7 linked regions of the Homo sapiens genome follow. The protein of the gene in region 4 interacts with the protein of the main gene of each other region in a pairwise test. Each region holds a gene or a part of one and is shown on either strand. Other genes may lie near its edges.

The links.
Region 1: the proteins of FAM9B (region 4) and PAGE3 interact in binary tests that used the Homo sapiens proteins (3 or more experiments, as listed by UniProt).
Region 2: the proteins of FAM9B (region 4) and FERD3L interact in binary tests that used the Homo sapiens proteins (3 or more experiments, as listed by UniProt).
Region 3: the proteins of FAM9B (region 4) and MAB21L3 interact in binary tests that used the Homo sapiens proteins (3 or more experiments, as listed by UniProt).
Region 5: the proteins of FAM9B (region 4) and CDC42EP4 interact in binary tests that used the Homo sapiens proteins (3 or more experiments, as listed by UniProt).
Region 6: the proteins of FAM9B (region 4) and NOL4 interact in binary tests that used the Homo sapiens proteins (3 or more experiments, as listed by UniProt).
Region 7: the proteins of FAM9B (region 4) and RMND1 interact in binary tests that used the Homo sapiens proteins (3 or more experiments, as listed by UniProt).

The regions. Positions count from the first base shown.
Region 1 is NC_000023.11:55,257,915-55,261,916, forward strand, and holds the end of PAGE3 (P antigen family member 3), read right to left. Parts: intron 2,746-4,002; coding exon 2,620-2,745; intron 615-2,619; coding exon 592-614; 3' UTR 501-591; downstream 1-500.
Region 2 is NC_000007.14:19,144,282-19,146,917, forward strand, and holds FERD3L (fer3-like protein), read right to left. Parts: upstream 1,141-2,636; 5' UTR 1,082-1,140; coding exon 581-1,081; 3' UTR 501-580; downstream 1-500. UniProt on the Homo sapiens protein: Transcription factor that binds to the E-box and functions as inhibitor of transcription. DNA binding requires dimerization with an E protein. Inhibits transcription activation by ASCL1/MASH1 by sequestering E proteins.
Region 3 is NC_000001.11:116,114,399-116,117,898, reverse strand, and holds part of MAB21L3 (protein mab-21-like 3), read right to left. Parts: intron 1-3,500.
Region 4 is NC_000023.11:9,027,628-9,031,127, forward strand, and holds part of FAM9B (protein FAM9B), read right to left. Parts: intron 2,970-3,500; coding exon of another isoform or gene 2,941-2,969; exon of another isoform or gene 2,734-2,940; coding exon 2,634-2,733; intron 1,792-2,633; coding exon 1,680-1,791; intron 340-1,679; coding exon 241-339; intron 1-240. UniProt on the Homo sapiens protein: May play a role in meiosis.
Region 5 is NC_000017.11:73,285,563-73,288,001, forward strand, and holds part of CDC42EP4 (cdc42 effector protein 4), read right to left. Parts: intron 1,051-2,439; 5' UTR 939-1,050; coding exon 1-938. UniProt on the Homo sapiens protein: Probably involved in the organization of the actin cytoskeleton. May act downstream of CDC42 to induce actin filament assembly leading to cell shape changes. Induces pseudopodia formation, when overexpressed in fibroblasts.
Region 6 is NC_000018.10:34,022,414-34,025,913, reverse strand, and holds part of NOL4 (nucleolar protein 4), read left to right. Parts: intron 1-2,262; coding exon of another isoform or gene 2,263-2,474; intron 2,475-3,500.
Region 7 is NC_000006.12:151,417,627-151,421,126, reverse strand, and holds part of RMND1 (required for meiotic nuclear division protein 1 homolog), read left to right. Parts: intron 1-3,500. UniProt on the Homo sapiens protein: Required for mitochondrial translation, possibly by coordinating the assembly or maintenance of the mitochondrial ribosome.

The sequences.
Region 1 (4,002 bases), about 46 Mb from region 4:
CAGTCGATGAAAGTCAACATATATCCAAGAAGAATACTCTCAGGAAACTAGAAATAGAAGGAACTTCTGATAAAGCATATCTGCAAGTAAAATCTACAGTAAATCATGGTAAAATGTTGAATATTTTCCATTTCTTATCAGGAATAAGATGAGGGTGTCCACTATCACCAGTTCAATTCCACATTGTACTGGATGAGTCTGTCCAATGTCATAAAATGAATTAAGGAAATGAAGAGTAACATACTTTAAAAGGCAGACTGAAAAGTATTATTACTCACAGATGGCATGATTGTATATGTTGACAATCAAAAAGGACCTAGAGAGAAACTTTTGGAATTAATAAGCATATTTAGCAAGGTTTCTGGAGAGAAAAATCAATACATAAAATTATATCTCTATATACCAGCTCAAACAAAATATAAATTTTCAAAAAAGATACAATTTTCAATAGCATGAAACACCTAATTATTCCTAGTTTGACATAAGTTGCACAAGACTTCTTTGCAGACAATTGTGAAACTTTATTGAGAGAATTTTACTGGTGAAGTTTCCAACATAAAGACTGCATGTATGGTTTCAGCTTGTCTTCATTTAAACCGATGGTTGCCCTTCACCTATAAGATAAACATAATAGTTGAGAGTATTTTTTAGCAGAACTTTTTATGATGACACTACGGGTTGAAAAAAGGCATAGTTTTGGTTTTATGAAATGAACTATAACAAGGTAACCCTCTGGCTTATATCCAGTTAAACCGCTATAGAGACTTTGAAGGTAGGCTTTCAGGTATATTAACAATATTTTAAAATCCCACTCATTTTTCTAGTGTATAAGAAAGAGTTTGAGTTCGAAATGATTTGATCAAATGAACCTATTTAAAGAAAGTTTTAACTAGAAACTAAAAACTGCATGTAATTTTAGAAAAAAAAAATCCAACTAACCAAACATAAGCAAACATAAAACTTAGGAAACAAAAGAAATTTGAAATAATGTTTTGAATATAGGATAGCTCAAACAGTAATGACACATTTGAAAGTGCTTAAGTGGCATAAATAGAAAGGCTAGTATTATATTTGTTTTGTTTCTGTTATGGGAAAATGCTAAAATGTTTTTGATTAGTTTACTCTTTATATGGTTGTTTTAAGTAGGTTAACCATTTGTCTCTGTTTTCACCTGTGGTTCTAGTATAATTATCAATAATGCCTCTTTGCACAGTTAAAAATATTCCAGTTTGTCCAATAAATTATATCGTCACACTGGTTGCAAGCCATTATTATTATAGATGAAGTGTTAAAAAGAAATAGTAATGATTCTCACAATTTGGCAAAACGGGGATCAGAAGGAGAGGGAGAGGAGGAGAGAGAGAAAGAGAAGAGACTGAGGAATCTAGAAAAGCCAAATACAAATAAACAAACAATAGCTTTTTTTTTTGTTTCTAAATGATAAATACTTTTGATGGAAAATTCTGGCAAGTTTTAAAAGTTCATCCATGTTATGATGTTTAAATATTCATTTACTACTGTGGTATAGTAAATGATTTTATGTTTTGCTAGCATATCAAACATTGCATCAAATTTTGAAAATTGTTTAGAGCTCAAGAATGTATCCACTTTTAATTATATTACACATTCAATATCTGTCCTGTCTTGTTCCTATTTTTTATTGTGTATACTTGAGCTTTGCCCATTTTCTTCAACATTATGTAAACTAGGGGATCCTCTATTCATAGATATGTTGAAAATCTCTTTTATTTACTAGTTGAATTATTTCCCTTAAATAAAGACTTATACCTGTCTTTTATTAAGTATATTTTTCCTTCTCCCTTATGTTTATCTTGTGCCTTTTTCTTATTTTTTATATTGAATGCTCATATAATTTTATATTTTTATTTTTTAATAACATGTATTTAAAGCAATGATCTTCCTATGAGTATATGTTGAATAGGTTCCTGAACATAGCCTGAAAAATATTTTTAATCTAAATATTCTAATGGAATGGATCAGGAATGTAGAGCAAAAGCAGTAGACTAATGCAAGATAATTTCTTTCCTAAACACTAAGTGTTTATATTAAATTCAGAAGCTCATATAACTAATGCCTAGAAGTTTGGAAAAAACATGTGTAAAACGTACTTAAGTTGATTACTCAAATTTTAATATATTTGATTTTGACCCATTTTTATAAGAGCAAATATGGGTTTAGAAGATAAGGAATTTGCCCAAAGTCAGTGAAATTTTGTTAGAGCTTGGATTAGAGCCTACTTAATTGCCTCAGCATGTTTCATACAGTGAATATCTGTTACAAATTCATTAGGTATTTATTAAAAGCAGACCTTTATAAAAGTATCTGATATTACTAGCTGTTGGTTTAGGAACTGATACTAAAAAGTAAGAAAATACCTTCACATTTTATAATTGAATGTGGCTTTGACCCAATGTGGTAGGATCTATGATGGTGCTTGTTTATTAGTCAGGCTTTTGGGGACTGAACTATCTTTCAAAGAATCTTTATATATGAACTCTGTTAAATTATATTAGCAGTAGTGGTACCTCTATATTATAAAATATATAGTATTTTTGAAAACAGAAACCCCATAATTTGCATTTTTAATGAATAACTTACCTGCTTCTGGTATTTTAACAGGCTCCAGATTTGGCAGAAATTCTCCCTTGACATTAGGACCATCTCCACGTTCACCCCCAGTCTTTGACCGAGTCAGTTCCCAGAGATAGGCTGCCAGGCCTAGCACTTAAAAATAAAAAACATTACCAATTTAAGTTGTAAAACATAAAATATAAATAAAAGAATGATAATATTCACTCCCTCAATGTTATGAAATAAAAGCCTATAGGCTAGTGTGGTAATACACGCAATGCATAAGAATTTCAAGAACATTATTTCAGGACTCTTACCAGAAAAAGAAAACAAAATTTTCCAAATATTATCACCCTTTTCTTTTCCCACAACTGCCCCAGACAGATTAGTTGAACCCTCTGTAGGTATATGTTATTGTACTTATCATTTCAAATTAGTGATTCATTTGAGTCTGTCTAACTAGATTGTGAGCTCAAGGCTGAAATCATCTCTTTCATTAGTATTTACATCCCTAAAGCCTACATATTGCATGGCATGAGTCACTGTGAATAAGTGTTGAGTGAAAAAAAAGTATTTAAAAATACAGCCTATACTGATGAACGCTCTGCAAAACAACTGGTCCATTCTCTTAAAAAATACCAGTGTCATGAAAGACGAAGAAAGAGTGAAGAACTGGTCCAGATTAAAAAAGATTAAATAGGATTGACAACTATATGTAATGCATGATCCTGGAATCAGAAAAAAAACTATAAGGGAAATTATTAGGACAACTGGGGAAATTTGAATATAAGCTATATATTAAACAACTGCATTTTTCATTGTTGAATTCCCCAAATTTAATAAACATACAGGGGTTATCCAAGAGAATATGGCTATATAATAGAATAGTGGGTATGAAATCAATGTGGCAAAACTCTAAACATTAGTTAATCTAGGTGAAAAGCATATGAGTTGATTATAATAATCTTGCAACTTTTCTGTAAATTTTATATTTTTACAAAACATAAATTAAAAATAAAAAAGAATAAATGACAACTATGTTGGAGTTCAGGAAGACAAGAGTTATTTTTGACAACATTAACAGCAACTAGGATTGGACTTCAGACAAGACTGGGTGCATTCAGGGTGGTATGGCTGTAGATGGATTGGACTTCATGTATTTGTTTTCCTGCATTACAAAAACCTCCATTTTAAATGACATTATAAGGACAAACCACAAAACATGTGCCGTCCTTATATTTTACCATAGTGCTGTAAGGGGAATAAACATCAGCCATCCAGGAAATCAGAACTTTACACCATGGATAAGATTTAAATTACATTTAAAATATAATTTTATGAAGAATTAGCTGAATGGATTTGTAAGCGTATGACATATCTTATAGTCATGACACCCATAACCTATTGGGG
Region 2 (2,636 bases), on a different chromosome or scaffold from region 4:
TTTCCTCAGTTCCTGGACAAGCCTCGGAGGACCAGGCAGAACCCTCTGGCTAGCAGAAAAGCTCGCACCCCCGCACCCTTGCGGCGTCTGCTTCAGACCCTCCACGCAGGCGCCCGCTGGAGCGCCTGCTGGGGATGGCGTACCACCGACCCTTCAGGCTTTTTAAAAACGTAAGAATTTCTACTTTATTATCTCTATGAAAAAAAAAATGTAAAGAAGAGAGGTTAGATTTTATAGAAGCTCCAAAGTCTGCCATTTGCGAGGAGGGTTCACTTCCCACCCACCCAGCCCACGGAAGCTCTTAGGAGCAGCCTGAACGGCCCCGACTCAGCCTCACGCTCTCTGACTTCCCCGCTCGCCCCTGACCCCGACTTCACTTAGGGCGGTCGCGTAGATATGAACTCTACAGCAGCCACTCTGCTCAGCGCATGTGGGGATCTTACAATCTCGACCCCGACCTCCAGAAGACCAGACGTTCTGTCTTGGGGCCTCCCTCCCGGCCCTTTAGCCTCACCCAGTGCCCGGTCCTGACACACCCCAGCACTACCAGACGAGGAAGGGCAGACTCTCCACACCAGGCTCAGCCGCTTTCCTTCTTCTCACAGCTCTCCAAGAGCTCGGTCATGAAGGAGATATAGACGATGGCCAGGCGGAGGGTCTCGATCCGGGACAGCCTTTTCTCGTAAGCAAACGTGGGCACCTTCCTCCGCAGCTGGTCAAAGGCCTCGTTGAGGTTGAACATCCGCTTCCTTTCGCGGATGTTGGCGGCCTGGCGCTGGGCGTAGGTGATCACCCTTTTCCTCTTGGGGCGGCCTAATAGGGAGACACCTCTTCCGCGCTCCTCTTCCTCCTCCTCTTCTCCGTCCCCCTGGTCCACTTCGCACTCCTCTTCTTCTGGGTCCCCCTCTTCAAACCGCGCCATCCTCCTGGGTCTTCCCTCTCGGAGCGCAAGGGCTGGGTCCCCCAAGGAGACCCCGGGTGCGAAGTCGCAGAGGAGAGGGCGTCTCGGGGAGGCCAGGGACAGGTCTGCGACGAAGTCCAGCACCGTAGTGTCCACGCAGCTCTCCGGATAGGCCGCCATCGCTTCGGCTTGGCCCTGCCTCTCATCGGTTTTCCGCAGGGAGGGGCGAGGTTGCTGGTGGGGATTCTTAACAGCCTTGAATCTGATGGGGCACCATCACCGAAAGGCCAGGGAACATTAAATATTTATAACCAAGCTGATAACAGGATTAGTCGCACCGATAAGGAATGCTCTGACAACGTCCCTTCTCTCGAAGCTTATGGAAGATGACAAGCTTGAGCACGCATGGAAGACTCAAAGGGACAGGGCTCCAGTTCTGAGATCCTTTTCTCTGCGCCACCCGGGACAGTTCCTTGTTGGCAACAACCCCCAGCTCTTACCTGCTGTGCTTTTTGTGTCTGTCTTCACCCCTGCAGCCAACTAATGTTCTCCAGGCTCCTTATCTCGTGTAGTTCTTTAATTTCGTGTTGGATTTTCAAAGCGAGGATGTTTTCCACCGCGATGGCTTCTCCTTGACTTCAGGGTAGGAGTCTTGAATCTTGCCACCATCTGCCAATGGATGTGGAGCAAGTGCATGTGCTTTTAATGATGTCCTGAAGAGGGGCCCTGCCTGCCTGGCATCAAGGGGAGCTGTTTGTCTGGTATCCCAGTGCAGCGGCTGCTGAAAGGCAAGACCTTCAATTAGCTTAAGTAAGCATGGCAGGGGGACCGAGAGTGCATTCCCCAGAGTCGCTGTTGGAACCGGCTTTCTTTTCTTTCCAGGGCATCGCAAACAGCTCTCCTGCCACGTTACAAACCCTGACTTCTAAAGTCTGTTTGGATGCAATCAGCGTAACAATTGAGATACTTGACTTTCCTTTCCCTACCTTTACCTCCTACTCATATAAAATAGAGGATTTTATTCCAAGAGGAAAAGTTATGATGGCAATAAAATGAGAAATTTAAGCTCAGGATATTTTCTATGCTCGGGCTTTGCTGTATACTTTTCAGTGTGGGGGACAAAGCAAACTCTCCTCACAAACAAAACCACTTCAAGCTCTTTTCAGAAATGCGATTTGCCCTTGATAAGCCAAAGAGTCAATCAGCTCACCCTCTGCTGAGGAGTCTTCGGACTTTTAAATTGCGGATCGAGTATTTGTTCCCGAACAAAGAAAAAAACCTAACACTTCCATCTGGCGTATTTTCCTCATTGATTTGTATTGTCCTACAGTAAGACTTAAGTGCAGAAACAATGATTTATTGAAATATATTTAAGGGAGTTTTTGGCTATCGTTAGATCGTTATTTTTGAGAAAAGAAAGAGATTTTAAATTTGGCATAAGAAAAATAAGAGATTACTCATTTTATATTATCTCGAGTATCCCAAATATTTTAACAAAAAGGTTCTTTTTCTTTGTTTGCCAATAACTATATTTACTTAATTATTCAGTACTGTGTAAAGATTTATTTAAAAGACCCATTGTGTCAAAGTGACAGATTAGAAGATAATTTTAAAGGTAGATTGGAAGAAATAGCCTAAAAAGATGAATGTAGAAACATCCCGGTTCAAAAGAGAACTGCCCAGGACGTCAGTCCCTATTAAGGGGGTAAGTTGTGGTTATGATGGTTCACTCAGT
Region 3 (3,500 bases), on a different chromosome or scaffold from region 4:
AGGAATTCATCTTGGTGTGGCAGAAAGAAAGAAGGGGAAAAGGGTGCATGCAGATACAGATAAAAGGGTAGGGGGCAGTGAAAATCAGAGAGATTTCCAGTCTGACGTCTATGTTCTTTATAGAGTGGGAGATGTTAATGAGCTAAGAGTGAAGTGGAAGGCAAGAGATTTCAGGCGATAGACTGCTGAGATAGCTGCTATAAGGAATGAGAGACTGTTTAGGTGCATGAGTAAAGATAACCAGACAGTGTCAAGACTTGGCTGAGGCTGAGTCCCTGAGGCTGTGGGATATCAGTAAGTTCAGTTAGTGAGATCTGCTCCACCACCTCTTAGCCCTCCAAAGGTAAGAGTTGAGGTGCTAAGATTGGAGTTTGCTGGGCAAGAGATGGATAAAGATAAAAAAGCAACAGAGGGTTTCAGCAGTGGGCTATATCTTCCAGCCGGAATAAAGAACGGATAAAGCTAGTGGTAGAATAGGGAACATTAGGCCACTTCAGGGACCTGAAGTCTGAGCAGGTACAGTGGAGAAAAGTAATAAAAGTGTTAATTAGATAGAACATTGCAGGCAGAGTGGTTGAGAAATAGTATTCTCTAATAGTTAAGTTCTCAGAACGTGTTGAAGGCCAAGACTAGCCTCCTGAATCTGCCAGCCCCACGGATGTAATTCCATAGAACTTGAATGTTAGTAACATAGCAGTGACTATACATATATATATATATATATATATATATATATGTATGTATATTTTGATTCCTGAGTTAATAAACTAATGAAAAATTCATCACCATCAAATCATTTTTAAATAGAAGCTTAAGAGTGTGTGTGCATGTGTGTATGTATGTACATGTGTGTATGTATGCACATAACACACGTGAAGAGTAGCCTATTGGAAAAAGTACTTCATTGTAAATCTATTCTACAAATTGTGCCCTCATTTGATGGTGAAATTCTTACCGAGCAGGACAAGATCACGCACTCCTGGAAAACAACTATAATCTCTCACTTGTTACACAGGTTATTAGTTCACCCTTATGACCTGTTTTGATTACCAAAGGTGAAAGTCAGAATAAGATAATGCTTTTTGAGACCTAGAACCACAAATTCCAGTTTTAATTTTCTTCCTCCATCACTTCTGCTGCAACTTAGATTCAGGATCTTAGAAATGGAAGAGACCTCAGAAATTGCCTCGTCTGGTGTGACTTTATGGAGGACCAGAGTGACAAGGCAGCTTTCCTAACATCACACCGGCAGTTAGATGTAGAATTAGACAGGCTCTCCAACACTTCTTTCCATCACACTTTGCCACACCCTTAAGTACTGATGTACCAGAAGTACGGCCTACCCTTTATCCTCTTCCTGAACCTAAAAATGCCTTCAATTTAAAGTCAAGACTCATGAAATAAGGAGTCCTAGGTCTCCATGTATTTAGGCATCAGCAACTGTTCTGGCATCTAACAAGCACAAAGGGTCATGCAGCAAGGGCCAGACAGTGATGCTCCTGCTGTGGGACCTGAGCAGAAGCCTCTTTCTCTAGGTGGCGGGCAGCCTTGTCCCTCCCCACATCTCTGGCTACACTTCCTGCAATAAGTTCTTACCCACACAGCATCACCGTGCTATTTGGTAGCCCCAGAAGTGATTTGTGCTGGGGGTTTCCAGGCTTAGTGCCAGACACCTCTTGTCACCCTCATGGTGTGACAACACAGAACCCCCAGACTGTTTCTCTCCACTTATTCTGGCCACACCCTAGACAGATACAGCAAGAAGTTCATTTCAGGGTGTGGAAAAGCAGGCAGTGGGGTTGGGGCAGCTGTACAGTGATCTAAAGAAGGAGGCTCTAACACAAGTAGACACCCATTGCAAGCCCAACCCTGGAAATCCTTTACTGCCTCTCAAACTTTAGGAAGCCAGCAAGATACCAGTTGCAGCTTCAAGGCAGCCTTGAGGCAACCTTGTCACCAAACTTAGTTCATGGCAAAACATGGAAACAAATGTTGTTTGGGCCTTGCTCTTCCCAGGCATGTCTCCATGCTGTCAAGGTCCTTGTCCCATCTTGGGCTGCTTTCCCCTCCTCCTCCTTAACCACAGCATCAGGTTCATTGTTGCCCCACAAGTCATTTGCTGCTATTAATAGCTCAAGTTCATGAATAATTTACTGCTTCAAATATAAATTATGGGGATTTAAGGTTATCCCCTATAATAATATCACTCTGACTCACTTGCATTCCGATACGCTTCCTTGCAATGGAGACAGAGTGGTGGTGCTAAGTAGCATGCCAGGAATGTCACACAGGCCTGATCACACCCATGACCATGCAGACTATGTGTATGTCATTCCCAATGAGTGTTACTGAGAAGAAAAGGCTGAGGACTTCCTTCCAGAAAACAAGAAGTCAGACCTTTAATTCCAGAATTGCATGAAATCCAATCATCAGTTAGAAAAATTTCAACAAAACAAAAACTGGCATCATCTCTGTCTTTCAGGGGCTAATAATGTAAAGAAATGGAAAGTTAAATCCAGTGATAGATACGCACGAGACCATAGGCTTTCCACCATCATATCCCTTCCTTTGTAGACTAATTCTTCCATGAATCAAATGCTTGGGTCACGCAGAATATTTGCAGCCCCCAAATGTAGCAGAAGCTGTAGCAGCAGCATTACCGTGAAACTAAGATTATTTAGTCCTTCCTGTGTGCAAGGCATTTTATAAGAGTAGGCTCATTCCTGCCTACCCATCATTCTTTAAGGTGGATGCTATGATTATCCCCATTTTATAGATGAGGAAACCAAAGTTCAGAATATTTAAGTAATTTGCCCAGGTTCCCAAAGTTAGTAAGTTACAGAACACAGGTAGCAGCCTTCCAAAGCCCATATTTGTAACCACTGCCCTGTTCTGCTCCCCAAAAGAAAAAGGTGACTGGGAATGAAATACACCTTGAATGTTTGAACGGGGTTCCCTTAGCCTGGAAGACCTTTCCTATACTTCTCCACTTATTAAAACCCTACACTTCCTCCAAGGCTTTGTCTCTACTCTTCTTTCTGTAAGACACCTTTCCCATCACAACTAATGCACCGTGCTCCTCCAGCAATCTGTTGAAATCTCTACTGCATCCCTTACGGTCTACCATGCATTCTATTAAGCACTTGCCTGACTGCATGTGAAATTCCCTCCTTCTTCCTTTGGGGTTATGTACAAAATCTGCAGATGGGACAGGGCTATCCTAGAGACCAAAACCAAAATTTCTCTTTCATTTAGCAGGCCACATCTCAGGCCTTGGTCTACCCTCAAACCGTAGCACAGTATTTTGCACAAAGCAGGTGCTTAGTATGTGTTTGCAGAGATATAGAGGAGTTTGGCAGAGGACGTTCGGCCTTTGGAGTAAAGAAGACAAGGCTGAAACTTCAGTACCCTCTCAATTTAGCTGTGTAACTTTGGACAAGTTATTTAATCTCCACAAGCCTCTGTTTCCTCCTCTAAAAATGGAGGCAATATGTACATCA
Region 4 (3,500 bases):
CTAGGTAAAATTTCCAATTTACCTTTTCCTGTTCTAAATAACTCCCACAAACTATTCATGAATCCTAAAAATACATTTACCAATTATATTATATCTGGAACAATACATTCAAAGTGAAAATGCTAAGTAATTTGAAATGTATAATCAAATGTCTTTCCATACATTCAGAAACAAGCAGACTGTCTTCTATTATGCACGTGTTGTATTTTATAATGTATTATGTTACCAAATAGAACAGACCTTTACGAATTGGTCACGTAGCAGCTTCATCTCTTTCAGCCTCTCTCTCCTAACACTTCTATATTGTTGCCACTTCTTCTGTTGTTCTTGAAATATTCTCTAGAATCCCAAAACAAAATAGTGATAAAAATTGGGTAAATTTTAATACTTACAAAACATAATTCTGCATTAGCTTTAAAGGAATACTGTTTAAATCAATACCTCTGAACACTTTCTTTTAGACAACATTTAGGACCAATTTTAAACAATTGTGTTCACCAATAACATGCTAAAATGATGTATTAACCTTTTTTATCAGTCATTAAGTAAAGAATTTTCTTACTTTTACACATTCAACACATATGTCCTAATTCTTGATTTCCAATGAAGAGTATTTGATGAACCTTCCTATAATTTGTTGACCACAGATAGGTAAGATCTATACAGAAATTAACTAAGAAAAATTCTTTCTAAGATTTTAAGCATGTATTAAATCTCGGTCATTTCAATATGCACATAGATGAACCACCCAATAATGATTGCCTTTCTGCACCCTGACCTAATCTCCAACAACAGTGTTCTCCTCTCCTCTACGTGGCACTCACTCACACAGTCATCCCCTAGATTTTGTCATTCCCAATGACTTCAACACCTACGTAATATTAATAATAGCAATGATAAAGAGCAACCATGGGTCAGATCACATCCTGAAAAACTTAAATAAACCTGTTACACAGAAACCCTTTGATCCTCCAAACAACTCTGACGTAGGTACTCTTACCATGTCTCCTTTCGTAGATAAGATAATTTGCCCATGGTTTCCGAGCTAGCAATGGTCAAGCTGAGATAAATAATTTTTCCATGGTTTCCGAGCTAGCAATGGTCAAGCTAGAATCCCAAGCAGTGTGGATGCATAGTCCCAGCCCTTGACCACTGCACTCAGCTGTTTCTCCAACTTCCCAACATACAGCCACTACCTCCCTGCCATCGTAGGTCACTCACTTCAGTACTACAGCTCAGGAGTCTGTTGGGACCTGACACCCACTGAATGGAGCACTTTTTACTGCCCATTGCCCACTCCCGTGTGCTCAGATAACTCAGTCCCAGCTGAAATTCCACAGCCAGTCATCATATCCCCATCTCTGCATCTATTCCCTGCCCAACTCTCCCTCTATCAATCTGCTCGGCTACACCCCGACCCAGGAAATTCCAACCCTACAGCTGTGCTTGCACAAATATGCCAACTGGGCTTACTTTAACTTCTTCATCGTTATGATGCTGACTTCAGTTGGACCCCTAATGCTGCGTGGCAATTATATTCCCCTAGTCCATTAGTCCACTAACGGGCCCCCCTCTCTGGGCTCATGCGCTCTTCCTTCTTTGCTGGATTTCTGCATGAACTATTACTACCTGAGACACTGACATAACAGGTTATACATAAAGCTAAGCATGATACCAACAATTAGTTCTTCCTCTTCTCCCTCTTCTTCTTCTTCCTCTTTCTGCTCGTCTGTGATGTATTCTTCAAGGACATTTAGCAACTTCAGAGAATGTATATAATCACGTTTCTGCCTGTAACACATAATAAGTAACACGGTCATACGTCATAGAGAGATGAAAAATTAATCCTATTCAAACCCAAACTGACTTGACATAATTTATACTATAAAGTAGCAAGGGAGTAATAGCAGCTGAAATCTTCTTTTTGGAAAAAAGTGAAATGAGTTACTCTCATTTTGAAAGGATTCTTTTCTTCCTGACTACTAGAGCAGCTATCTTACATTCTTTACCTGCTGAAGACAAAGGAGGGTTTACTGCACTATAACTTTCCCAGAAACATTTTCTCTAAGAGCAGTTTACTTTCCATTTCCTCTTACTGAATAACATATGGGTTCTCATAAGTAGGTTCAAGAATATCATAGCCATTCATCCCATAAGATTTCCCAAAAGAAAAACTTCACTTAACTATTTCTCCACTTTGGCACACCAATGATTTTGTAAAAGAAATAGTGAAAACAATTTAACTAAAATAGATAACTTATTTACAACATAAGGTTATCCCTTTCTACATAATTGAGTATCGTTAAGGATCTACAGACTAAACATTGAGAACATTTATCTTATATGCAGCTACCATATTTCTAGAAATGGATAAACATTAATTTTACAAGAAGGCTATTTTTATCTGGAAGGCAAAAAGAGGTCATCTTCATTGGCTTCTAGGTAATATCTCTTAATTCTGTTAAACTGAGGTTATAAAACTAAAGAAACTTACCTACTTAGAGAACAATCAAGTAAAATATGTTGTTCACTAGAGACGCCAATATGTACAGGATAGTTTTTGAAATTATTTGCACCAACTAATACAAAGAAATGATATAAATATCATTATGCAAAAAAGCCAACAGTCATACCTTTTAAGTTGCTTTTTTCTCAAAGCATGTTTACTTTTGTTCTTTGTTTTGCTGCAAGTTTTATCCATTTTCATCCTTTTTCTTTTTGCAGTAAGATCCTCTTTAATGTCAGTTAGATAGTAAATGAAAATGGATTAAAAGTTAATGTTGAAAAGTAGTTTCTTTGCATATACTGACATCAATATGGGACTTTATGGTTCAGCAATTTCAGAAGGATATTTAAAATATAAAATGCAAAGATCATTTCAAAAAGCAAGATTTACTCACTTATTTTCTGTAAAACCTTTCAGGTATTAACATTCGCATTTCAATTCCAGTTGGTATAACTGAAAATCACTTAATTGACAGATGATGAAAAAAAGCAAATAATTAAAAGTCTCTATTTTTTAAATGTGCAGAAAGAGTTATAAGCACAGACTTTAATTTCTACATTTATAAAATGTCCTACAATTCAAAGGAGATGCTTCCATGAAATACTGCACAATTCATTACGTAAAGCACACAAAAAAGTATCTTATATAATAGAACCCTCAAAAGGGTAGAAATAACTTAATGCACAATAAGAAAAGCATTTTTAAGCAATCTAGTGATTGATGCTATTAACTGTATTTTAATAAAAGAAGCAATGGCCATGAGTATAAAAATTTAGGTTTAGGTAAAGAAATACATTCAAAAACACTTTTGAAATGTTTTCTTGGAGCTTTTTATGACATTTGTACCCATAGTGCTGTGTTTCAGAAAACTGTAATACTGCAAGGAATGCTTTCCTAAACATGATTTCACATCAGAGCTCTACCATCAATTGCTAAGAATAATTTTCAGCAATCATAAAAGATTTGTACCACAATGCAAATATTTTTTACATAC
Region 5 (2,439 bases), on a different chromosome or scaffold from region 4:
CAGCTGGAGAGGGAGCTGCTGTCCCGTGTGGTGTGGCTGCCCATGCTGCGGGCTGAGCCGGGGCTGGGGGCCGCTGCTGCCCACCCCTCATCCTCCAGAGCATGGGAGGGGAGGGAGGGCAAGTCTGGGCCAGCCTTGCCTTCCTGCCTTGCCAGGGGAGGGGCCGCCACGGCGTACGGGGGAGCCTGGGTGATGGTGCCAGCGGCGCCCTCATCGCCATGGTAACCACCCTCCCCCTCCTCGGGGTCCCACTCCTCCTTGTCCATGATGCTGAGGACGTCACCCAGCATGGAGGGCCCCAGGTCGATGTGGAAGGACATGATGGACTCCGCATGCTTCAGCCCGTACGTGGCCTTGGGCACGACAGGCAGATCTGTCAGATCCCCAAAGGCCTGCTCATCGAGGAGGGGGTCAGGGGAATGTGGACCCGCGGCCCCATTCCGACGGGGCACTGCCTCCTCCGTGCCCGCCTCCTCATCGCCGCCCTCCCCGTCATTGGCCTTCTTCACGGGGCTGGATGACAGGCTCTTGGGCAGCTTACTGGTGCCCTTCTCCGCGGCCTCCTTCTCATTGAGCTGGGGCAGGGACATGGCATTCTTGACAAACAGGGCCGAGTCCCGCAGGGAGCCCAGCATGTCACGCTGCTCCCGCTCCCCCCTGGTCACCGACTGTGACCGCTTGCTGCCCCGGAACTTCCTGGACAGGAGACTGCGTTTGGAAGATGAAGAAGAGGGCTGTTCGTCCAAGGACTCGCCGTCGGGCTCGCCAGCCTTGCTATTGAGGAAGGAGGTGTCCCCAAAGGCGTCTCCGGCCCGGCCAACGTGCATGGTGTGGCGGAAGTCGCCCAGCGGGGCGCTGATCATCTCGGCCGTGAGGTCCGCTCGGGAACGGCGCTTGGAGTGCACCGAGCTGGACACCAGTTGCTTGAGGATTGGCATCTTGCTGGATGGGCGGGGAGGTGGGCCCTCCCGAGGTAGCCGGCAGGTCTGGGGTCAGATCTGAAGTCCAAGTCCAGTGGGCAGAGGGGGACGCAATGAGGAGATCATAAGGCTGCAAGCAGAGAATGAGAGGCAAAGGATTAACGCGGGCTGGCCACACGGCACAAAAGCCTCTTTGCCAGGGGACTGTCATTTAAACCCCAGCGCTCCTACCAAAGTTAAATGCTGTGAAATAAGCCAGCAATCCATGGTATAACCCTGCCTGTTTCTTCATCCGCAGGCATTCAGAGTAGAGGAGTGATTTTGCAAATCTGGTTAGAGTTCCAGTAGCCTCGGACACACTTTCCCTGAAACTTGAGAGAGACAGAACCTTTCTTGCAGAAGACAATGCCTCCCCTGCCCCTGCAAGCCAGGATGCTGCCAGAGTAAACATGACCACATTTAAGGACGCGAAGGTAAATCCAGCAATTCCAGGCAGCAAGCCAGGGAAGAGATGGAGTCTATGAGTTGGCTCCTATGAACAGTCAGCCTGGAGATGTGCTGTAAGTTCTTCCTGCTGTCTAACCTCGATCCCTGTGGAGTTAGTGGACACCCCACCCTGAGTCCTGGTCCTCAGAGAGAGAAGGGAAAGGACAGGACGGGCTCAGGGAGACAGAGGCTGACCAGCTCCTCCCCCTGCGTGGGCGGCACAGTCCTCTTTCTGAATCAGAACTGGGGTGGGGCTGCTGGGACCCACAGAACCAGCTCCCCAGCCTTTCAGCCTTCGCTTGGTATCCCATAAATGAGGATCCCGCCTGTGACGTCTCCACTGTGGAGCCCCAGGCTCTTTGCTGAGGGTCCACCTTCTGGTGTCTCGGGGAGATCAAGATTGGGCAACTTCCAGTTTCTTTCATCATTAGGGGAGTGGGAGGCAGGGACTGGACCCTAAATGACTTCGTCCCCCCAGGATCTGCAGACTGATTCCTAGGTGATTCACCAGAAATCCAAAAAACAGCAGAGGTAGAGCCCAGGAGCCTGGAGGCACCACTCTCACAGCTCCTGACAAGGGCCAAGTTGAAGTTCAGCATTGGGGCCAAACCAGCCCCTCTCTTCCCTAGAGGGGCTTGCCCCAAATACTAAGCCCAGCAGAGCTGGGCAGGTTGGGGAGAGATGGGTGCAGGGATTTAACAAAGTATGGTGGGTGAGAGGTGATGCTTGGACACCAGGTACCTGCCTGCCTCCCAGTCCAGCCAGCAGCACAGTTCTGAGAGGCACCCCCAGTCCAGACCCACTCTTCCCACTGCAAAACTCAGATGCTGGGTGCTTCCTCCGCATGCCTGCCGCTGCGTCACACAAGCCCACCACACCCCACCTGGCCCCTGACATCAGCCTGACAGGTCTCCCTGTTGGTCTCCCTCCTGTCCATCCTTCACCTCTTGGCTAAAACAAAACCCATCCACATGACGCCCTACCCAGTGCAGACCCCTTGATCCAATGACTAGTCCCCACCTCGCTCCTCAGT
Region 6 (3,500 bases), on a different chromosome or scaffold from region 4:
TAGGAGAGTTTAGGAGAATACCTAAAGGAGTATACATTCTAATCATTCACCTCTAAGTTACTTTAAAAACATGGGTACTTAACAGGTCTAGTATGATCACAGGGTTTCTCTCTCCGCACAAACTCCCAAAACACAATACACTTCACCTGCTTGCTAATGGCTGAAAATACCAAGAGAAAAAGCCTTTCATTCTGCAATTAGAGATAAAAGGTTTAAATTACAACTGCCTAGTTGAAGTAACATTTTTCTGTGAGGGAATTTCAGATAAAGGATAATCAATCAATCAATCTGTCAATCCATTACTCAGTAAAATGACATACATAGAGCCAGTGTGCACACAAATAGCTGGAGAATTAGTGATCAAGAGGGGAAAGAGAACATGCAGGACCCAGAGGACACACTTTGATGGTTTTGACAATTCTTCCCAGGGTGATACTCTTTACCTGCTATGTGAGCAAAACTGATAGTGACTTCAGCACATGTGAATGCTTATATGATAGGCAGCTCTACTTTAGAAGGGGAGTAAAGATTCTTGATTTTCCAAACATACACTTGACCCAGGTAAAGGCCTTTTCTTCCAGGGGTTTGTTAACCAAGGTAATTAAGTTTATCCTTTTCCCCCAGATAAGGTTTATAGCTCCTTAGTTACACATTTACCTTTAATTCTTTGGGCAAGATCATATCCTTTCATGAGTCTTTTTAAAAAATGGGACCATTCTGGCAGTAAGTATTTTTGTTTATTAGTTTTGATAAAGGGAAAGAATATTTGGCTTTTGGCTTCTTTTTCTGAAATTTTTCCAGATTTTTATAAAATGAGATTAAAATATCCTCAGATTCAGCCTTACTGAACCCAGAATTGAGGGCTGTTAGTCATCTTTAGTTCTGTTGCTATCCACAGTTGCCTCCTTTAATTGCGTATTCTACTGGGTAGTTGTTGGATATCATCTACATTAATTTCTCACATATGGCTCCTAAGCACTTATATGAGAAATGCTTCTAGATTCCCTGACCTCAACCAAAATAAATTAAACCAAGATTTCTAGCCTTTATTGTGTTAGAGGTTTTAGTGCCCACATGGATCCTACAGATACATATTTTTAATCATCTCCCCCAGGAAATTCCAAAGCAATTAAAGTTTGAGAACTACTAATACACATCTATTATTCGAAATATACTATGTATATTATTCCAGTATAGTATTCCAGTATACTGTGCTGGAAAGTGCTACCAAGGATTCATTCAGCCTACATTACCTGCTTTGTGTTGCAGAGTAAAGGCAGTTATGGTGTAAGATTTAAGGTATGGCCTAGTGATAGATAAGCTTCCTTTGTTGTTGTTGTTGTTGTTTGTTTTGTTTTGAGCCTGGGAAAAGACAGAGCAGAGACCACAAGGGGTAAAGGAGAGTTGCACTTAAACTATTTTGCAATTAGATTTCAAAGGAATTTTTAATTTTTTTTCTTTTTTGGATATGAAGGTACTAATCTTTTCAGCAAGGCTATTTACATCTATATTTTGGACCTAATACTTAGTTTTACGGTAAGATATGAAAGAGAAGTTTTCTAAGGGGGGCATCAAAGGACTAGAGGAGGAAAATTGTGGTGAATTTGGGGAAAACAATAAAATCTTTGTGGACCCTGTGAGCATCTGACCTGAATTTTGGGACTAAATTTCCAAGTACTAATGTTAAAATGAGGATTTTATATATATATATATATATATTTTTTTTTTTTTTCCTGTTTATTTTGCCTAAGGCACTTGGCCTAAAGGACATGATGCTGAGCTACTGAAAGTAACTGAATAAGAAAGTAGGTCAGGTACTTTGGGAGATTACATATACACACACACACTTAAATACACACACAGGTACACATATACATTAACATAATATTTTAGGCCAATTCTCTTCATACAGAGAGAGCTAATTGTTGAATATGATGCTGATGAAACCACTTTTCTACAAAATGCTGGTGGGATAACTTAACAGTATTTCTAGGGTCTCTACTAATTCATGGAGGGAATGGGGAGTAGCAAAAGAGAAACAATAAAATGAATAATCTGCCATTTACTGTGTTACTAGACCTTCTAGACAAGAAGGAGTCTCATCTGTGCTCGCAGAGATAGCACAATAATTCTCCAACACTAAATCCATCCCATCAAAAGTAGCCACAGAACAAGTTAACTCCCGACGTCCAACTGCCCTCCTGATGTCACTAGATTCCACACTTCCTTGTCATCACATTCCACATTCTCCTCTGTTGCTAGGTACCCTGGGCACTCTTATTTTCCAAAGCTCCAGGTGCTGTTTTCCTTGGGACTCATATACAGAGTCTTTGGTTCAAATGCTATGGTACCCAGGCTGAAACCTTGAGAGAAGAACCACCGCCTTGGCCCAGTGAACCTGAAGGCCATACCCACAGACCTAAATACTGCACCTTCTGTGTAGCAGCTACTCAGGATGGACCAAACTATGTTGGGTAAGGAAGCAGATTACCCCTTTAAAGTGATGACCTGATATGAATTGGTTACAGGAGTCTGAGATCCGCGATTTTAAATTCTTAAAAAGTATCTTTTAGGGAGAGAGGGAAAGAGAATAAAAATGGTTAACATGATTACATGAAACTCAGCAATAGAAAATTCTTAATTTGTCCTCAGTTTAATATCTGCTTACTGTTCTATATGGTATTTTTAAAATAAAGACATCAAAAACTTTGTTTTAAATTTGGATTTATAGGACAGTGTTGTGAGACATTATTGTTTTTTACCATTTAAATTGCAAAATATGTGAGTATGTATATTTGATACAAATGAGTAAATCATGTATTTGTTTTTCTTAAAACATACTGATTTACTCAGGAATGAAATATGTAACGCTGTTGAATTTAGTTACCTTGGTAACATCTGGAGTGAACTACTCCATCTAAAAATATTTTCTACCTTATTGTTTATACTTTTTATTGATATAAAAACAAGGCACTTATTAAAGCCTTTCCTGACAAATAATAATGTTTACCTTACCTGAAAAATAAATGAATGATATACCATTTATTAGATATACATAATGATTTCAGATTGAAGAAACAGATGTAGGATGTTTAGTTTTTAACCAAGATAGATATTGGATTTGTCTTATGCTAACGTAGATTTTATTTTAAAATATAATATATACTTAGGGTTATTTAACCTAATAACATATTGACAAAGCTTTCATACATTAAATGTTACTATATTTTTTAAAGGATTCTAGAACACAAATGTTAAATCACTTTTTTTCATGAATTAAAAATTGGAGTTGAATATTTTCATTGTGCTCTTCTTTGGACTTTTGTGGGAAATAATAAAGTAATAAAAATCATCTTCATAATTTAGCGTAAGAATTTGAATTGGCATAAAAAGAACATGCACACATTTATCTAAATTACTTATATAAGTCATCCCCTTAATTCTGCATTTCAGAAACCCTAGACATTTCATGTTAAAATAATATTTTGAATCCCTGGATT
Region 7 (3,500 bases), on a different chromosome or scaffold from region 4:
CATTTCATTGATTATAAGCAGGGAGAACTCTTACCCATTAGAAGTAGTTGGGCTGTGTTAAGACTGTACTGAAAGAAATCACGCATGTGCAAAAGAGATCACGATTCATCTACATTAAACCCACATTAAGGAGCACAGTAGGTGTTCTTTGAAGGTAGAAAGACATATTCCTGAATTTGGTTAATGGGAATTCTCTGTAAAAATATATCACTGCATCATAATGCTAAATAGGCTTAATTGCTACAGAAAAGTTTCTTTGAATCTGAGACACCAAGATGCCACTGGAGAGAAAAACTGCTGCCAGTTAAACTATGACAATACTTTTTTTATCAGAGGATTAAAATTTTACACTTACTGAAATATCTTTTAATCTTAGCTGGATATAAATTATATCACATTCCCTCTTGGGCATATATGAAAAGGAAAGCATAAGAAAATAAATTATTTAAGGCAAAGACAAGTAAGTCTCAAGTGCCACCTGTCAGACACCATTAATTTTAAGATGCCTCGAGATGTTAAAATGGGAATAACTATGTCTAAAAACTGATGAATCATTTTAAATAAGTATCTGGAAAGGTTTTCAGCTTTTATTATTCTTGTAGTTGTCCCAGGATTTACGGAATGAAACATCCCGGATGTTGGTGTTTTTCTCACAGGCAGCATTGTCCAGTTTATCCCTTCTAGCATGTGGAATGAGTTACCAGAGCTCACTGCAAATGTTCACCTAAGACTTGTTTTTCCATATTCTCCTTAGATGCTCTGCCTGGAGAGAAGTGATACAGTGTTTCATTGTCTGTGTATCTCTCATAGCTCAGGACCTATAGTTCAGGGTACCAACAAAACTTAAAAACCCATCCATCAGGAGCATCCTGCAGCATATCTGAAGCCTCAAATTCTCTGAGAAGTAGGGTAGAGAGATTCTTCTCTCCTGTTCTCTTGGTCATGCAAGCAGAAATTGATGTAGTGAATTATAATATCCAAACTGAATAGTTAGGACTAAATATACGTAGGTTTGTGAATAGTTTCTATAAAGGCTTACTTTTACTATCCTGTTTCCTTACCTGTACAATAAAAATGCTTATTTGTTAATATAAGGAATGTGATACATCTGTGAAAATAAACATGGCAGATAATATTAGATTAAAAAACTAAATCTAAATTTATATAGGGTATGATCCCATTTGTGTAAGCAAATAAAAATATTCATGTTTATCTTTATATGCATACACATGTACATGTGTTTGCTTGCACACACATGCATGTATGAATACAGAAAGATCTGGAAGTACACAGCAAAGTGTCTCTACAGGCCTGTCCTTGGGGAGAATAAAGGATTTAAGTAGTGTGGTAGCATAAGAGAGCCTACCATTTTTCTGAATCCTTCTCTAGGATATTTTCCTTTTTTTTTTAATCGTGAACAGGTATGTATGTGTTACTTTTTTTTTTTTTTTTTTTAAACAGGGTCTTGCTTGTCACCCAGACTAGAGTGCAGTGGCATGATCATAGCTCACCAAAGCCTTGATCTCCTGGGCTCAGGGATTCCTCCTGCCTCACCCTCCTGGGTAGCTGGGACCACAGGAGTGCTCCACCACACCCAGCTAATTTTAAAAATAATTTGTAGAGACAGGGTCTCAAACCCTTGCTCAAGCAATCCTCCTCCCTAGGCCTCCCAAAGTGCTGGGATTACAGGTGTGAGCCACCACATCAGTTTATGTGTACTTTCATAACTTAGATTTTTATTTAGTTAAACATCTAAGTGTAAGGCCAGGCACGGTGGCTCACACCTGTAATGCCAGCACTTTGGGAGGCTGAGACAGGTGGATTGCTTGAGGCTGGGAGCTCGAGACCAGCCTGGCTAACATGATGAAACCCCATCTCTACCAAAAATACAAAAATTAGCCAGGAATGGTGGTGTGCGCCTGTAATCCCAGCTTCTTGGGAGGCTGAGGCATGAGAATTGGTTGAACCCAGGAGGCGAAGGTTGCAGTGGAGCCAGGATCATGCCACTGCACTCCAGCCTGGGCGACAGAGCAAGATTCTGTCTCAAAAAAGAAAAAGGCTGGGCACGGTGGCTCACATCTGTAATCCCAACACTTTGGGAGGCCGAGGCCAGTGGATCATCTGAGGTCAGGAGTTCAAGACCAGCCTGACCAACATGGAGAAACCCCATCTTTACTAAAAATACAAAATTAGCCGGGCGTGGTGGCACATGCCTGTAATCCTAGCTACTCGGGAGGCTGAGGCAGGAGAATTGCTTGAACCCAAGAGGTGGAGGTTGTGGTGAGCCAAGATCGCGCCAATACACTCCAGCCTGGGCAACAAGAACAAAACTCTGTCTCAGAAAAAAAAGTAAGCACAGACTTCTTATATTAAAATGTAGAAATTAAGAGAGAGAGTGTGTATGTTTATGCTTGCTTGTCTAGTGTTTGCATAAACACTGGAAGGATACAGCGGAAACTAGAAGGGATTACTGATAGGGAAAGATACAGATAAGAATAAGAGTTAAGATTTATCAATTTTTACCTGTTTATATCTTGATCTGCTCAGGAGGCTGAGGCAGGAAGATCACTTGAGCCCAGGAGTTTGAGGCTGCGGTAAGCTATGATTGTGTCACTGCACCCCAAACTGGGTGACATATGAAGACATTATCTCTAAAAAAATTTTTTAAATAAAAAACAAAAAAGTGTGGACATATTAAATTTTTTTTTTATTTGAGATGGGGTCTCACTATGTTGCCTAGGCTGGAGTACAGTGTCACAGTCTTGGCTCACTGCAGCCTCTGCCTCCGAGGTTCACATGATCCTCCCACCTCAGCCTCCCAAGTAGCTGGGACTACAGGCATACACCACCACACCTGGCTAGTTCTTGTATTTTTTGTAGAGATAGGGTTTCGCTGTGCTGTCCAGGTTGGTCTTGAACTCACAGACTCGAGCAATCTGCCCGCCTTGGCCTTCCAAAGTGCTGGGATTACAGGCATGAACCACCATGCCTGGCCCTAAAATTTTTAATAAAAAAAGTTTAGGCTGGGAATGGTGGCTCACACCTGTAATCCCAGCACTTTGGGAGGCTGAGGTAGGCAGATCACGTGAGGTCAGGAGTTCGAGACCAGCCTGGCCAACTTGGTAAAACCCTTTACTAAAAATACAAAAAATTAGCCAGGTGTGATGGTAGGCACCTGTAATCCCAGCTACTTGGGAGGCTGAGGCAGGAGAATTGCTTAAATCTGGGAGGCAGAGGTTGCAGTGAGCTGAGATCATGCCATTGTACTCCAGCCTGGGTGACAAGAGTGACTCTGTCTCAAAAAAAAAAAAAAAATTGAAAACAAAATGAGTTTTTTTCTGTGTACTTCATAAATAATGTTGGTATTAAAGATTGAATTAATTTGGTTCAGAAGTTTGAAACTCATTTGTAAATTTTATTTACATGTTTGTTGGCAGTATTTTGCAAAGGTCAGCATTAACAAATGTTTTCAGCCACATGCAATGCCACATGCCTGTAGT